Regions from separate parts of the Homo sapiens genome. Here region 2 is linked to region 1. The links come from fine-mapping of genetic effects on gene expression. Tissue or cell type: whole blood. Region 1 holds a variant in brackets; the other region holds the start of a gene. All regions are shown on one strand. Distances are from middle to middle.

Region 1 (8,105 bases):
GATGGAGTCTCGATCTGTTGCCCAGGCTGGAGTGCAGTGGCGCCATCTCGGCTCACTGCAACCTCTGCCTCCCGGGTTCAAGCGATTCTCCTGCCTCAGCCTCCCTAGTAACTGGGACTACAGGCATGGGTCACCACACCCAGATGATTTTTGTTTTTTGTAGAGATGGGGTTTAGCCATGTTCGCCAGGCTGGCCTCATGGGATCCACCTGCCTCAGCCTCCCAAAGTGCTGGGATTACAGGTGTGAGCCACTGCGCTGAATAGTACTCCATTGCGTGTATGAACCACATTTTCTTTATCCATTCATCTGTTATTGGACACTCAGGTTGCTTCCAAATCTTAGCTATTGTAAGCAATGCTGCAACAAACATAGGAGTGCAGATATCTCTTCGATATACTGAGTTCCTTCCTTTTGTGTATTTACCCAGCAGTGGGATTCCTGGATCATATGGTAGCTCAATTTTTAGTTTTTTGAGGAACCTCCAACTGTTCTCCATAGTGGTTGTACTAGTTTACATTCCCACTAACAATGTACAAGGGTTCCCTTTGCTCCACATCCTCTCCAGCATTTGTTATTGCCTGTCTTTTGGATATAAGCCATGTTAACTGGGGTGAGATGACAGCTCTTTGTAGTTTTGATTTGCCTTCTCTGATGATCAGTGATGTCAAGCACCTTTTCATGTGCTTGCTTGCCATTTGTATGTCTTCTTTTGAGAAATATCTATTCAAATCTTTTGTCCATTTTTTGATCGAATTATGAGATTTTTTTCTATAGAGTTGTTTGACCTCCTTTTTATATTCTGGTTATTAATCCCTTGTGAGAGGAGTAGTTTGTAAATATTTTCTCTTGTTCTGTGGGTTGCCTCTTCGCTTTGTTGGTTGTATCCTTTGCTGGAGGACAGACCCTTCTGGATGCAACTAGAGCAGCTGGGCTCCCTCCTCCCTTTGAGAGGGTCTCCAGAGGGCCCTATCAATCAAGATCAGCCTAGAAATTGTTGCTCGAGTTGGCTCCAGATGACCGCACCTTCACCTTCCCTCCAAGTGCTCTATGATTTCTTACCACACCCACTCTCACTGTGCACCAGGATCCTTAGCTACTCCGTGTCATCATACACCTCCGAGCACTTGCCTTATCCCTGCTTTCTTCATTGCCTTCTGAAATCGCCTAACTTTTGAAGATGCAGCTCAGGCAACACCTCCCTGACATTGTCACCCCAGCCAGAAAGAATCTCCCCGTATTCCCTTAGCACTTCACTCACACCAGCAAAATAGTTGTGATTCTGTTCTATCTTATGCAGAATTTGTTGTTGACAGTGAACTGGAAAATTTTTATGTACATATCATGCTGAGTTATTTTAAGAAAGTATTCACATGATGGGTAAAGCAGCCTAGTACATTAAATTCTTCCATTTTCTTTCCGCTCATAGTTCTCTGCCACTAAATTATGAGCTTCAGAAAGAAAGCAATTTATCCATCTTGGTTTCTCCTAAGAGAAGTGATGACTTGGCCAGGAGCGGTGGCTCATGCCTGTAATCCCAACCGTTTGGGAGTCCAAGATGGTAGGATCACTTGAGCTCAAGAGTTTGAGACCAGCCTGGGCAAAATAGCAAGACCTCATCTCTACTAAAAATTTAAAAAAATTAGCCAGGCATGATGGCACATGCCTGTAGTCCCAGCTACTTGGACGGCTGAGATGGGAAGATTGCTAGAGCCCGGGCGATAGAGGCTGCAGTGAGCCCTGATCGCCCCACTGCACTCCAGCCTGGGCGACAGAGTGAGACCCTGTCAGAGAGAGAGAGAGAGAGAGATTGATTATATCTAAACGATGCAGTGCCTTGCTGATAACAGGTGCCTAATTAACTTGTGTTGATTGAATTAGTGGATGAGAGGGAGTGAATGAATGACGTTAACTCTTCCAATTGTTTGAAATATATTGTGCTAAGAATTAATGTCTAACAGAGATCAGATTTTGTTATAAGGTCAATTTTCAACTGCAGGCCACCAAAATGTCACCACGGTATATTTTCCAATGTGACATTTTGTAATTGAAAACGTGTGGGATTGGCTCTCACTTTTGCAGAATATTCAAATGTTGAGTTCTCTGAGACATTCGGAGTTTCAAAAACGTGTTTAATGGAAATTGAATTGTGTGACGCCTCAGTGCTCCCTGTTTCAGACAAGTGGTTTTAAGGGAAAGACATGAACTGCACTTTCTACACAGTTACTCTGTTGCTAAATTAATAGGCTTGCATTGAGTCGGATATCCTGGAATAGAAAAAAAAAATCCATTGAGTTATTAAGAAAAGAGTTTGGGCCATGCACAGTGGCTCACACCTGTAATTCCAGCACTTTGGGAGGCAGAGGCGGGTGGATCACAAGGTCAGGAGATTGAGAACCTTCTGGCCAACATGGTAAAACCTCATTTCTACTAAAAATACACAAATTAGCCAGGTGTGGTGGCACATGCCTATAATCCCAGCTACTCGGGAGGCTGAGGCAGGAGAATCGCTTGAACCAGGGAGTCAGAGGTTGCAGTGAGCCGAGATCACGCCACTGTACTCCAGCCTGGCAACAGAACAAGACTCCATCTCAAAAACAAAGAGTTTGGTTTCTCAGTTAATTCATGGCCACACTTTCCAAGCCCACACTTTCTCAGAAAGTTTCCTCTGGTGAAAAGCAATAAAATTTATTCTGTGAACTACGTCATTTTTATTCATGAAGCCTCATATCAACAATAGCTAGGGGCCGGGCACGGTGGCTCACGCCTGTAATCTCAGCACGTTGGGAGGCCAAGGCAGGCAGATTACTTGAGCTCAGGAGTTCAAGACCATCCTTCACAACGTGAGAAAAACCTGGCTCTACTGAAAAAAAAAAAAATTAGCTGGGCGTGGCGGCGTTCGCCTGTAGTTCCAGGTACTTGGGAGGTGGCAGGATGGCCTGACCCTGGGGGAGGCAGAGGTTGCAGTAAGCTAAGATTACACCACTGCTCTCCAGCCTGAGTGACAGAGCCAGACCCTGTCTCAACAAAAACAAAAACAGCTAGGAGTTTTGTTATTAGCTGGATTAACTGATGTTACAATGCATAGAGGCAGGGGCTTTGGGGTCAGACAGTCTCAGGTAAGCCTATGACTGAGGCCGAATGTCATAACCTCTCTGAGCCTCCCTTTTATCATCTCTGAACAGGGAGATTACCCTACTCCTATAGATGTTTGAGCAAAGAGAAGGGAGTAATGTACCCTTCAGAATGTCTCACAAAGACCAGGCACCATGCCTCATGCCTATAATCCCAGCACTTCAGGAGCCAAGATGGGAGGATCATTTGAGCACAGGAGTTTGAGACCAGCCTGGGCAACACAGCGAGACCCCTGTCTCTAAAAAATATATATATTTAAAAATTAGCTGGGTATGGTGGTGCATGCCTGTAGTCCCAGCTACTTGGCAGGGCTAAGGTGGGAGGATCTCTTGAGCCCAGGAGTTCAAGGCTGCAGTGAGCAATGATCACGCCACTGCTCTCTAGTCTTTCTTTTGTCTAGCCCTTTTTTGTCTTAAAAAAAAAAAAAAAAAAGACCCTGTTTGAATGCTGGATCATCTCAGTGGGTAGAGAGTGTCAGGACTCTGGCCCAGCCCTGTCTAGTCAACCATGGCCAGTAGGGCCAGGTCTATGCCCCCGCAGAGGAATGGGGAAGTATCTGAGAAGGGGGAGGAAGGA[A/G]GTGCAGAGCAGACACCCCAGAAGATACTTCCTGCACCAACCCCACCCCACCCGTGATAGTACCTCAGTTGCCTGAAGACAGGATAATGACCTGTCTCTGTCTTCTAGGAGCTGCCTCCTAGGGCTCTGGGGATGAAACGAGATGGTTCTACAGCACCAGCTGAGAGCCTGCACATAGCAAGTGCCCAGTACTTGATGATGCTTAGAGGGTAAGGACGGCCTCTAATTGATCTTTATGTGCCCTAGTGCCCAGTGAAGGGTCTGGCACACGGTAGGTGTACCATGAATGTTCGTAGCACAAATGCATCAATGGCAACCGCCTCCCTCCTTCATTCACTCTTTCCTTCTAATAATACAGCCAACATTCTATTAGCTCTGTGGGCAGCCACAGCGTGCTGGAACTCGCCATCCTGGGCTCGGTGCCTGATTCTCCACACTATTCCTGCCCTGTGCTGCTGAGCCCACGTGTTTCCCAGCACCTGAACCTGTACTCTGAACCCGCCTGTCATTCCTCCTTGCCCTGTTCTCTCTCCTTGGATACAGGCCTCCCCTCCAGCTGTGGGATCTCTCTAGGTCTGTATTTATCACCTCTGGTTGGCACTTCCTATATGCTGTCATCACAGAAGCAGGGGGTGGGAGAAGCCTCTTGGTCTTCATCCAGGTCTAGGATGGAATTTCTGTCCACTGTGGGGCTGGGTAGAGTTAGGCAGCCCAAGCCAGGGCTGCATGAGGAAAGGGCTGCGTCCCCAGGGTCTGTCACAGAGTAAGTTTCAGGTGTTGCAACTCGCAATAAATCCATGCATTAGGCACAAGCCAGGACTCCTGAGCCAGATATCTCTCAACCCCAACGCTGGCTCCACCAGCAACTTGCTGTGTCCTGGGTAAACCACATGGCTTCTTTTAAAAAAAATAGTTTTACTTTGTTTACTGTCCAAAGTACTCATTAATTGTTTATTTATCAAGAGAAACTATTTCTAATTTTTTGTGTGTGAGACGGTGTCTCACTCTATCACCCAGACTGGAGTGCGGTGGTGTGATCTTGGCTCACTGCCATCTCCGCCTCCCAGGTTCAAGCGATTCTTGTGCCTCAGACTCCTGAGTAGCTGGGATTACAGGCGTGCACCACCACACCCAGCTAATTTTTGTATTTTTAGTAGAGACAGGGTTTTACTGTGTTGGCCATGCTGATCTCGAACTCCTGACCTCAAGTGATCCACCTGCCTTGGCCTCCCAAAATTCCGGGATTACAGGAGTGAGCCACCCTGCCAGCCCAAAGAGAAACTATTTCTTAGCCCCCATATTCATGTTTCATAGTTCAGGAACACAGGTCAGTGATAAACTTCTAGGTAACTCAACCCAAAGAAATTCTTTATATTCCAAAATCACTTTGCACTCTGAACAATAACAGCCATCCTCATCGCTTCTACATATGCCTTGTTTCTTGGTTCAGCCACAGCAAACTTATAGAGAGCTGCAACTCTCAGGGATACAATGACTGCTCCAACAATGTGAAATGGCAGACTCTGGACCAGAAGGCCACACACCTGAGTTTTGTCAAAGCACTGGAAGCCGTGGTAGTTGTCTAGTTGTCCTTGATAGGTATGTCAACCTCAACACCAATGTCTTTCCTGGATCACTTTTCTTTTTTTTTTTTTAATTGTTATTTTAAAAATCACACAGATAACATAAAATTTACCATCTTCACCATTTTCAAGTATACAGTACGGTATTATAAGCACTTTTGTTGTATAGTGAAGCTCCAGAACTACTTCATCCTGCAAACTGAAACTCCAAACACACTAAACAATGTCCTTTTTTCCCTTCCCCCAGCCCTCGGCAACCTCTTTTTCCTCTTTTTCTGTTTCTCTTTTTTTCCTCCTTGAAACAGAGTCTCGCCCTGTCGCCCAGGCTGGAGTGCAGTGGTGCGATCTCAGCTCACTGTAACCTCTGCCTCCCGAGTTGAAGTGATTCTCCTGCCTCAGCCTCCCAAGTAGCTGGGATTACAGGAGCTCACAACCACGCCCGGGTAATTTTTTATGTTTGGTAGAGACGGGGTTTCACTATGTTGGCCAGGCTGGTCTTGAACACCTGACCTCAAGTGATCCACCCATCTCGGCCTCCCAAAGTGCTGGGATTAGAGGCATGAGTCACCATGCCCAGACCCTCTATCTGTTTCTAGGAGGTTGACTACTTTAGGTTTTTTTTGTTTTTTTTTTTTGTTTGTTTGTTTTTTTAATTTATTTATTTTTTATTGATAATTCTTGGGTGTTTCTCACAGAGGGGGATTTGGCAGGGTCATAGGACAATAGTGGAGGGAAGGTCGGCAGATAAACAAGTGAACAAAGGTCTCTGGTTTTCCTAGGCAGAGGACCCTGCGGCCTTCCGCAGTGTTTGTGTCCCTGGGTACTTGAGATTAGGGAGTGGTGATGACTCTTAACGAGCCTGCTGCCTTCAAGCATCTGTTTAACAAAGCACATCTTGCACCGCCCTTAATCCATTTAACCCTGAGTGGACACAGCACATGTTTCAGAGAGCACGGGGTTGGGGGTAAGGTCACAGATCAACAGGATCCCAAGGCAGAAGAAGTTTTCTTAGCACAGAACAAAATGAAAAGTCTCCCATGTCTACTTCTTTCTACACAGACACGGCAACCATCCGATTTCTCAATCTTTTCCCCACCTTTCCCGCCTTTCTATTCCACAAAACCGCCATTGTCATCCTGGCCCGTTCTCAATGAGCTGTCGGGCACACCTCCCAGACGGGGTGGTGGCCGGGCAGAGGGGCTCCTCACTTCCCAGTAGGGGCGGCCGGGCAGAGGCGCCCCTCACCTCCCGGACGGGGCGGCTGGCCGGGCAGAGGGGCTCCTCACTTCCCAGTAGGGGAGGCCGGGCAGAGGCGCCCCTCACCTCCGGACGGGGCGGCTGGCCGGGCGGGGGGCTGACCCCCCTACCTCCCTCCCGGACGGGGCGGCTGGCCGGGCGGGGGGCTGATGCCCCCACCTCCCTCCCGGACGGGGCGGCTGGCCTGGCAGGGGGCTGATCCCCCCACCTCCCTCCCGGATGGGGCGGCTGGCCGGGCGGGGGGCTGACCCCCCCACCTCCCTCCCGGATGGGGCGGCTGGCCGGGCGGGGGGCTGACCCCCCCCCACCTCCCTCCCGGACGGGGTGGCTGCCAGGCGGAGACGCTCCTCACTTCCCAGACGGGGCGGCTGCCGGGTGGAGGGGCTCCTCACTTCTCAGACGGGGCGGCCGGGCAGAGACGCTCCTCACTTCCTAGATGTGATGGCGGCCGGGAAGAGGTGGTCCTCACTTCCTAGGTGGGATGGCGGCCGGGCGGAGACGCTCCTCACTTTCCAGACTGGGCAGCCAGGCCGAGGGGCTCCTCACATCCCAGACGATGGGCGGCCAGGCAGAGACGCTCCTCACTTCCCAGACGGGGTGGCGGCCGGGCAGAGGCTGCAATCTCGGCACTTTGGGAGGCCAAGGCAGGCGGCTGGGAGGTGGAGGTTGTAGCAAGCCGAGATCACGCCGCTGCACTCCAGCCTGGGCACCATTGAGCACTGAGTGAACGAGACTCCGTCTGTAATCCCGGCACCTCGGGAGGCCGAGGCTGGCGGATCACTTGCGGTTAGGGGCTGGAGACCGGCCTGGCCAACACAGCGAAACCCCGTCTCCACCAAAACCAGTCAGGCGTGGCGGCGTGAGGCTGCAATCGCAGGCACTCGGCAGGCTGAGGCAGGAGAATCAGGCAGGGAGGTTGCAGTGAGCCGAGATGGCAGCAGTACAGTCCAGCTTCGGCTCAGCATGAGAGGGAGACCGTGGAAAGAGAGGGAGAGGGAGAGGGAGAGGGAACTGAATCTTAATCTACTTTAGGTTTCATATGACAGGAATCATGCAGTATCTGACCTTTGGTGACTGGCTTATTTCACTTAGCATAATGTCTTCCAGTCTCATCCATGTTGCAGCATATAACAGGATTTCCTCCTTTTTTAAGGCTGCATAATATTCCACTCTGTGGATACAGCATATTTTTTCCCATTCATCTGTCAATGGACGTCTAGGTTGCTTCCACCTCTTGGCTATTGTGAATAATGCTACAGTGAACATGGGTTAAAATACCTCACTTCTGGAGCCTCAGTTTCCTCATCTGTAAAATGGGGATAATCACGCCTGCCCCATTGTTGCTGGCACGTGAAAGAAGCCTGATAAATCATGCTCCTAGCACCTTTCACTTTTCCTTCAAGGCACTTCTCCCCATTATAATGATGCCCTTGTTTATGTTATGATTCATTTCATTCTCTTTGTTCCTCATGAAGATGTAAGCTCCAGGCCTGCCTCATTCATCCCTGTATGTCCAGTCTGAGAAACAGTACTTGGTACAAAGTCAGCACTCAAT
Region 2 (8,086 bases), 56 kb before region 1:
GTGTTAGGTCTTATATTTATTTAGGTCTTTGATCCAATGTTGAGTTAGTTTTTTTATATGGTGTGAGGTAAGCGTCTATCTTCTTTCTTTTACATGTGAAAACGTGGTAGATACTTTATTCAATTTACAGATTAGAACATAGAGACTGAGAGGGAGTAAATGACATGTCCAGAGTCACATAGCCATTGGGAGTTGGAACTAGAATTCAATATTAGGTCTGACTCCCAAGTTGATCCCCTTTCCACCACATCAAAATGCCCTTTATTATTTTGTATAGATGATATCTCTTTATTATTTTGTGACCAGGGATGTGGAAATCACAGGCCTAGTCAATAAAATATGTGCTTTAATCTGGCTCTGGACAAGTTATTCCTCCTCTCTGGGCCTCAGTCTCCTCTTCTGTACAATGGGCTGCTGATCTCTAAGAGTCTCTCCTGTGGAGACAACTGGTACCCTTGGAGCCTCATTCACCCTTGCCTTTGTTTTCATTTCTCCTCTCCAGAGTGCAGTGGGGGCCCTCCCAGCTACAGCTGCGCTTCTGGAAGGAGCTTATTGATAGGCACAGAGTATGGGTGAGTCTTCATCCCAGGCCTCAGCCAAACTCTGGGAAACACTCTGCATTCCCTGGCAGACAGCTGCAACCCCAAGCAGCTCCATAGGAAAACTGCAGAATGGCAGAAAATGCAAGGGAAGCCAATATGGAAAGGGCTTTTTCCACATGCTGACAGTTTTCTTCACAAGTATCACAATGAAGCTATTTGAGAATCAGCTTGCAAAGCACCTGGCTCTAAATAGCCTTCTCTCCCTAGTCCTTAAGTAGAGACAAAGCAGCTCCTTTTATCCTCTAGAAGTGCCCTTTCCTAGGGCCTGACCCACAAATGGGTGCTCAAAACCTAGTTGAATGAATGAATGAACAGATGAATGAAGATGGCTACACACACTTCTTATTTCCCTTGATTGCCTTAGACCAGGACACGGCAGATTTTTCGCAAAGGGCTGGAAGGTAAATATTGTTGTCTTTTCAGGTCACAGAGTCTCTGTCACAGCTACTCAGCTCTGCTGTTGTAGCTCACAGACAGCCATAGACAATGCATAAATAAATAGGCCTGGCTGTGTTCCCATAAAATTTTATTTATGCACAGTAAAATTTGAATTTTATGTAGTTTCTATGTGTCACATAACATTATTCTTCTTGTGAATTTTTTTAACCATTTAATATGTAAAACCAATCTTAGCTCATGGTCATAGGAAAACATGATGAACTACATTTGGTCTATGAGCTATAGTTTGTCAACCTTTGGCTTAGACTCTTTTTTAAAAAAAAATTATTTATAAATAGAGATGGGGTTTCGCCATGTTGGCCAGGCTGGTCTCGAACCCCTGGCCTCAAGTGATCTGCCCGCCTCAGCCTCCCAGAATACTGGGATTACAGGTGTGAGCCACCACTCCGGGCCCTTTGGTTTAGACTTTTCCTTTCTGTTTTTCATTTTAAATATTTTCTTCTTAGTACCAGAGTAATATATATTCATTACAGAATAATTAGAAATTAGTGACATTGTAAAGTTTATCCTCTATTAAAAATAAACCCAAGGGGATAAAAAGAAATTACTGACATGGACATGCAAATAAAGTAATATTAGAATAATCTATAATTTCAATACACAAAAATAACCATTCTCCTACTGAACACAGTTTTTCACTCAGCATTGCTAGCTAGCTATATCGGTGCCTTTTAATATGATAGCCACTAGCTACCTGTTACTGTTACACCTTAAATTAAAATTAGATACAGGCTGGGCGTGGTGGTTCACACCTGTAATCCCAGCACTTTGGGAGGCTGAGGCAGGCAGATCACTGGAGGCCAGGAGTTTGAGACCAGCCTGGCCAACATGACGAAACCCTGTCTCTACTAAAAATTAAAAAATTAAACAACGAGCCAGGCGTGGTGGAGCACGCTTGTAATCCCAACTACTCAGGAGGCTTAGGCAGGAGAACCGCTTGAACCTGGGAGGCAGAGGTTGCAGCGAGCTGAGATCACACCACTGCACTCCAGCCTGGGTGACAGAGCGAGACTCCGTCTCTAAAAAAATAAATAAATAGATACAATTAAAATACAGTTATTCGGTTAACTAGTCATTGCTTTTTCCAAAATTTTAAATTTATTTTTCCCTTTTCCTTTTTTTATTATTTCTTTCTTTCTTTTTTTTTTTTAAACATCTTGGATACCAAAATTAGTCATTTCAGGTGTTCAATACCTCCATGTGGCTAGTGGCTACCACACGGGACGGCACAGATATAGAGCATCATAGAAAGTTATATTACACAGCATTGATCTAGCTCTACCTGGTAGATTTAACAAAAAGTAAGATGTTTAACAAAAAGTAAGACAGTACCAAATATACTGTTTTTGCAAATAACTTAACATTTTGAGATTTGTTTTGTTTTGTTTTTGAGACAGGGTCTCACTCTGTCACCCAGCTGGAGTACAGTGGTGTAATCTTGGCCCACAGCAGCCTCAACCTCCCAGGCTCAAGGCTGCCTCAGTCTCCTGAGTAGCTGGGACTACATGCATGCGCCACATCGCCCGGATAATTTTTGTATTTTTTGTAGAGACAGGGTTTCACTATGTTACCCAGGCTGGTCTTGAACTCCTTGGCTCAAGCGATCCTCTTGCCTTGGCTTCCCAAAGTGCTGGAATTACAGGCGTGTCACCACACCCAGCCCCATTCAATATTTCATACCTATGTTTATTGTTCAATTTCATGCAACAATTTCCCTCTGAGTCCCTGCTGTTGTGCATTCAAGTTGTTCCCAGTTTTTCCCTGTGATAAACAAAATGGTAGTAAGCTACTTTATCATTAAATCTTTGTACCTTTAAATGTTTTCAGATAAGTTCATAGGGATTGGATTGCTAGATCAAAGGGTCAACTTACTTTTAAGATTTTTAAAATAGAAATACCCAATTTCCCTCCAGAAAGGCTGTGATCTTTCTACTGCCATCATCAATACATGAAACTCCTTGAAGTCTTTGCAAAGAATAGTAATTATAATAATAAAAACAAGGTCATTTTGGTAGGTAAACTCTTTCCCTCTTTTGGTTTTAACTTGCCTTTCCTTTTCAAAGTGTCATCTCCCATGTTTATTGGCCGTTGTATTTCTTTGGGCAGGTCAAGGGTAGTAAAGGGGATTATGTTCATGGCTTTGGTTTTAAGAAAAAATTGCTAGATTTTCAGCACAGGCCTCATCAAGTTCCTCAAGCAAGGTGACAATCACCCAGGCTAGAGTGCAGTGGTGCCATCTCACCTCAGTGCAACCACTGCCTCTCCATTCAAGCGATTCTCATGTCTCAGCCTCCCAGGTAGCTGGGATTACAGGCAGGTGCCACCATGCCAGGCTAATTTTTGTATTTTTAATAGAAAGGGGGTTTCCCCATGATGGCCAGGCTGGTCTCGAGCTCTGGGCATCAAGTGATCTGCCTGCCTCGGCCTCCCAAAGTGCTGGAATTACAGGCGTAAGCCACTGTGCCAGGCCTCAATTATTCTTATTTACTGCTCTGTGTGTGTGTGTGTGTGTGTGTGTGTGTGTGTGTGTGTGTGTTGGGGGGGAGGGTCCCCAGAGGTGACACTAGGAGGTGAATGATTTGTTTGGCAGCTTTCTATTTATCTATGTGTTTACTTTATCTTAATTCTTTAATTGCAAGGACTATAGCGCTTGTGTAATCAGAGATAGGGCAGCCTGGATTCCTGGACAGCAGGAGGAGAGACCTCAGGGTTCTACAAGACTCCACAGACCAAGTTATCAGTGATCAGGGTGAGTGGGGAGAACCAAGCTGAACTCTTTCTCTGCCTTTAAGGTCTGTACTCTCCATCCATCCATTCATTCATTATGAGGACTTGGTGATCGCCTGTTGTCTTGATGAGCAGTTCTTTGTGTCTTTGATTTTGTCACTGAAAGATTGCATCCTCTTTCCAAATACCTCTAGAAAGCTGTGGGGGGGCTATCCATCCGTCACACCTGAGTATTAATTATCTTCCACACAGCATTTTATACAACGGTAGAAAGGCACCTTCATCATATCTAGGGTCTCGTTTATACCCACGAAGGAGGTACAATCTCTGTTGTCCCAATTTCAGGAAATTGAGGATCAGGAGGCGCAGTGACCTGCTCCAGGTCATGCAGAAGGAACCACCTCTGACTCCCAGCGCCCTGTTTGTCTTCCGGAGCGCTGGGGCCAGGCGGAGGAAAGTAGCTGGGAGCAAGAAGGGCTGGCAGGGCCCTGAGCGCCGAGATGGGGAGTGAGGTGGGGAGGGCGGGATGCTCCTTCCCTTCTCCGCAAAGGAACCCCTTCTGATTCCGACTCTGGAGCTCCAGAGACCGGATCCGAGACGCGGGTGGAGGTGGAGTTACACTCGCCTGCAGCCCTGAGGGTGTAAATGGCCCATTAAGATCCAGGTTAAATCAACCTATGGAGCTGCCCCCCAGAGGGTCAGGGTCCCCACAACTTGACGGGGGTCCTCAGCCGTCTCCTCCCCAGTCCCAGGACTCCCTCCCAGCCCTCGCGGTCCCTCTGGTGGGTCCCGCCCCAGCCCCCGTCTCCCCCGCCCCCGGAGGCTGGACTCTGCCCCCGCCCCGCCTGCCACCTCCCTCCTGGGGGCGGTGGCCCGTGGCGGGCGCACCCATTGGCTGTGGCGAAAGCGAGGGCCGGGGCTGGCGGCGCTGATTGGCCGGGACGCTCGGCGGAGCCAGGGAGTCCGGCGAGTCGCTGGGGGAAGTCGAGCAGACACCCAGCGCTGCCGGAACTCGGGGCGCGCATCCCGCAAGTCGGAACCCGGCGGATCGGATCCCGCAGATCGGAGACGGGGCCTGGAGGTGAGCGCGAGGCGCCGGGTGGCTTGGGACGGGCCCTTCCGAGGGGAGCCGAGAGGAGGTCCTTCTGCCCTGCCCCCAGGAGCAAAACCTGGGCATCTTCTCCTGGAAACGGAGCCCTCATCTTCCCAAGACGCGGGGCCCTCCCCCGAAAAGACAGGGGCTCCCACCCCCCAGAGAGCAAAATACCTTCCTTTCTCCTTCAGAAATGGGCCCTTCCTCCTGGCTCCAGCTCTAGACAGAAGTCCTCTCCCTTTTACCGCTTGAAATAGAATGCGGCCCCAAAAAGTGGTCTCCAGGTCTCTAGAGCCCCCTCACCTCTTGGGAGACTGATGCCCCTTCCCCATCCTTAGAAAACTAAGTTTGGGTGTCTTCCTTCTCCCCTCTCTTTCGGAATAATGGGGGTCTTCTCAGCTTATAAATTACAGTGACCTCCCCCTCCATGACAAATGGAAGCTCTCCCCCCATCATAAGACAAGGAAATCCCGGAGCAGAGACTCTGCAAGTCACCCTCCCACCCCAGATACTGGGCTCTGGAGAGATAGATGATTCACCCTTAGCCCTGCCGGAGACCCCTCCCTACCCGTCAGAGAGGCAGGGTGGCCTCTGACACCACCACATTAAAGGCTTTTGGGGATTTCCCCTCTCCTCCCCAGTAAAGATGTAAAATGAGGGACCTTCATACTCAGGAGCAGGGCAAAGGTCTGGCCACCCCTCCAAGTCATCCACCTCCCTCCACTCCACCCAAGCCCTTTCACACAAACCCCATCCTAGTAACCCCCTGCACCATCCTCCCACCGCTCCCAATCCCATCCTTCTCCACCTCACCCCAACTCCACTCCCACACCTGGCTGCCCCACCTATTTCACATCCTCTCACCTTTCCTCACCCACCCTGGCCAAGGTAAGACTAGAGGGGGTTCAGCGAGATTTAGTAAGACTGGAGCTCTTAAAACTGGGATCTGGGGCCTAGAGGCCCTTCCAGGAGTCTTCAAACTCTGACAACAGAGATGGCCTCTGAGGCAGCAGGACCAGCAGAGACCACCCGCCACCTCTCCCCCGCTCCCTGCCCCAACACACGCACAAAGGCTGTGTTCAATGCATTCTCTCTTGCAGTCTGGGAGGACAGCTGGCCCTCTTCCAAGAGGGCCCGCATTTCCCCCCTAAAGTGTGCACCCCCGCAAGCGCCTGTGGACATTGCCTGGTGGAATTCCCTGGGCACTCAGCCAAGAGAAATGGGTGCTGCTGGGCCCATCCACTGGGGAGGAGACAGTGTTGGCTTTGCTGCTTTGATGAAGCTAGACTAAGGGACAGGATGTTGGTGACCTGGGGGTGGGGAGGGGGTGGGAAGAGCTCTTCTCTGGTGGGTCAGGTTGGGAGGCAGGAGAGAGGGAGGCAGTGAGTTGTGTCTTGCTCTTTGGAGCCTGTGTTGCGGCGTGGAGTCATAGAGAAATGTGTTTTCTCGAGGCCCAAAGAGGTTAGCCACGGGGAGAGGTAAATGGTCCAGTCTGGAGTCCTAAGACCTAAAAGGGCTTCTGCATTAAAGACGTGGCCCCTTCATTTGACAGTTAAACACACAGAGGCACAAAAGGGGAAGAGACTTGCTCAAGGTCACCCAGCCTGTGGGAGACAGCTGGCCCCAACCCCTCCAGGACCCTTAAGGTGCTAGGATCCCTGACACAAGCCCCAGTCCTCACATTTACAATGGGGACTTGGGGACTGCTGGGTCCCAAGTCCCCACTTGTCAGAGGAAGCGCCAAGGCTCTGCAAAGGTCATGAAGCCAGGAAGGGGCAGAGCTGGAACTCAATGCCATCCCCCAGCAGGCTGCCTCGTGGAATCCATTCCTGGGTGTCAGCGCATCCCTGCTTACCCCGTGCGATCTTTGTGTTGAGGCCATTGCCAAATCTAGGCTTGCCAAAATCCAAACTGACCCAGGATAGCTAATAAGATCAGTTGCAGCTAATGAGAATGAGATGCTGGAGTGGAGGCTACTGCAGGAACCTCACTTGCATAGCTGGGTTTGCTCCAAGAACTTTGGACAGGTCCTGAGGATGTCATATTCCTTCCCTCCAAGGTCCCCTCCCTCTTAGCCCCTGCCCACGCCCTCTGGCTTTGAGTTCCCTGCACATTGTCTCATCTCTGTTCAGAGGCCTGCGTCTTTTCTCCTGGGGCATTGCATGGGAAAAGAGCTGAAATTCTGGCAGATTCTCTAGGACCACCCAGCTGGGCAGCATGGTCTGAAGTAGAGGCTCTCTCTGTTTCTGCCCCCACCCAGTTCCCAGCTAAAGGATTGGTTGTTGTGCCCCAACTTTGCCAAGGCGAAGTTCAAAGCATGAGGAGGACCACGGTAGAGAGGCCGAGAGGTTGGTCCCTGGAGACCTCTTATCTGGGTCGAGAGCACAAATCTGCCACTTAGTGTCTGATCTTAACCTCTCTGTGACATATCCTTGGGGTAAAATGAGTTAATCCTCATAAAATGTTTAGCACACAGCAAAATGAGCAGAAACAATGATTACAAGTGCAAAGTCATAAAACCTCTAATCATGAAGTGGGGAGGTGCTTATGCCTTAAGGCAAAACTTGTAACCCTTGCCGTAGATAATCTGCCAGGGCCAAGGTGCCTGGGGACAAGGGGATGTCTTCCTAGAGAGACAGTGTAGTATGTGGAATGGACCACAGACCCTGAAGCCAGATGGAGTAGAGAGTTGGCCACTGGTAGTGGCTGTCTATGGAAACTTAGGCAAGTCATTCATGTCTCTGAACCTCAGTTCCTCGTCTTTGAATGAGGTTTGTTGGGGTTGGACATCAGAAAAGAGACAGGTCTAGATGAGGGGTTCTCATTTTGGGCACTGTTGACAGTTGGGTCAGAGGATTCTTTGTTGTGGGACTCCCCTGTGTATTGTAGGATATTCAGCAGCGCCTCTGGTCTCTACCCACTAGATGCCAGTGACACTCCCTACCCCATGAGTCATGTCCATCAGAAATGTCTGCAGACATTGCCAGATGTGCCCTGGGGAGCAAAATCATCCTTTTCCTTCGCTATTGAGAACTGCTGGTCTAATACATGGCCTTAAACATAGTTGATACTTAATATAAAACAGCTTCCTAGCTGAGGCGGGTGGATGGCTTGAGCCCAGGAGTTTGAGACCAGCGTGGGCAACATGGCAAAACCCCATCTCTGTAAAATACAGGAAAAAAAAAATCAGCTGGTCATGGTGGCA

What was found. PIP is the estimated chance that this variant, and not a neighbour inherited with it, causes the effect.
Region 2: it holds the start of ABAT, and the variant in region 1 is fine-mapped to the expression of ABAT in whole blood (INTERVAL, PIP above 0.99).

The regions. Positions count from the first base shown.
Region 1 is chr16:8,726,281-8,734,385 of GRCh38, forward strand. The region is part of intron 1 of ABAT (4-aminobutyrate aminotransferase); the gene reads left to right. Among named protein-coding and RNA genes, the nearest start is that of ABAT, 56 kb to the left of the region's middle. RefSeq lists a silencer at 885-1,113 and an enhancer at 5,774-6,359. The variant A/G (reference allele first, on the strand shown) is at 3,711.
Region 2 is chr16:8,669,843-8,677,928 of GRCh38, forward strand. ABAT (4-aminobutyrate aminotransferase) reads left to right here and starts at 4,775. Exons shown (of 16, transcript NM_020686.6): 1 at 4,775-4,869. RefSeq lists enhancers at 3,772-4,273, 4,274-4,773 and a silencer at 4,368-4,827.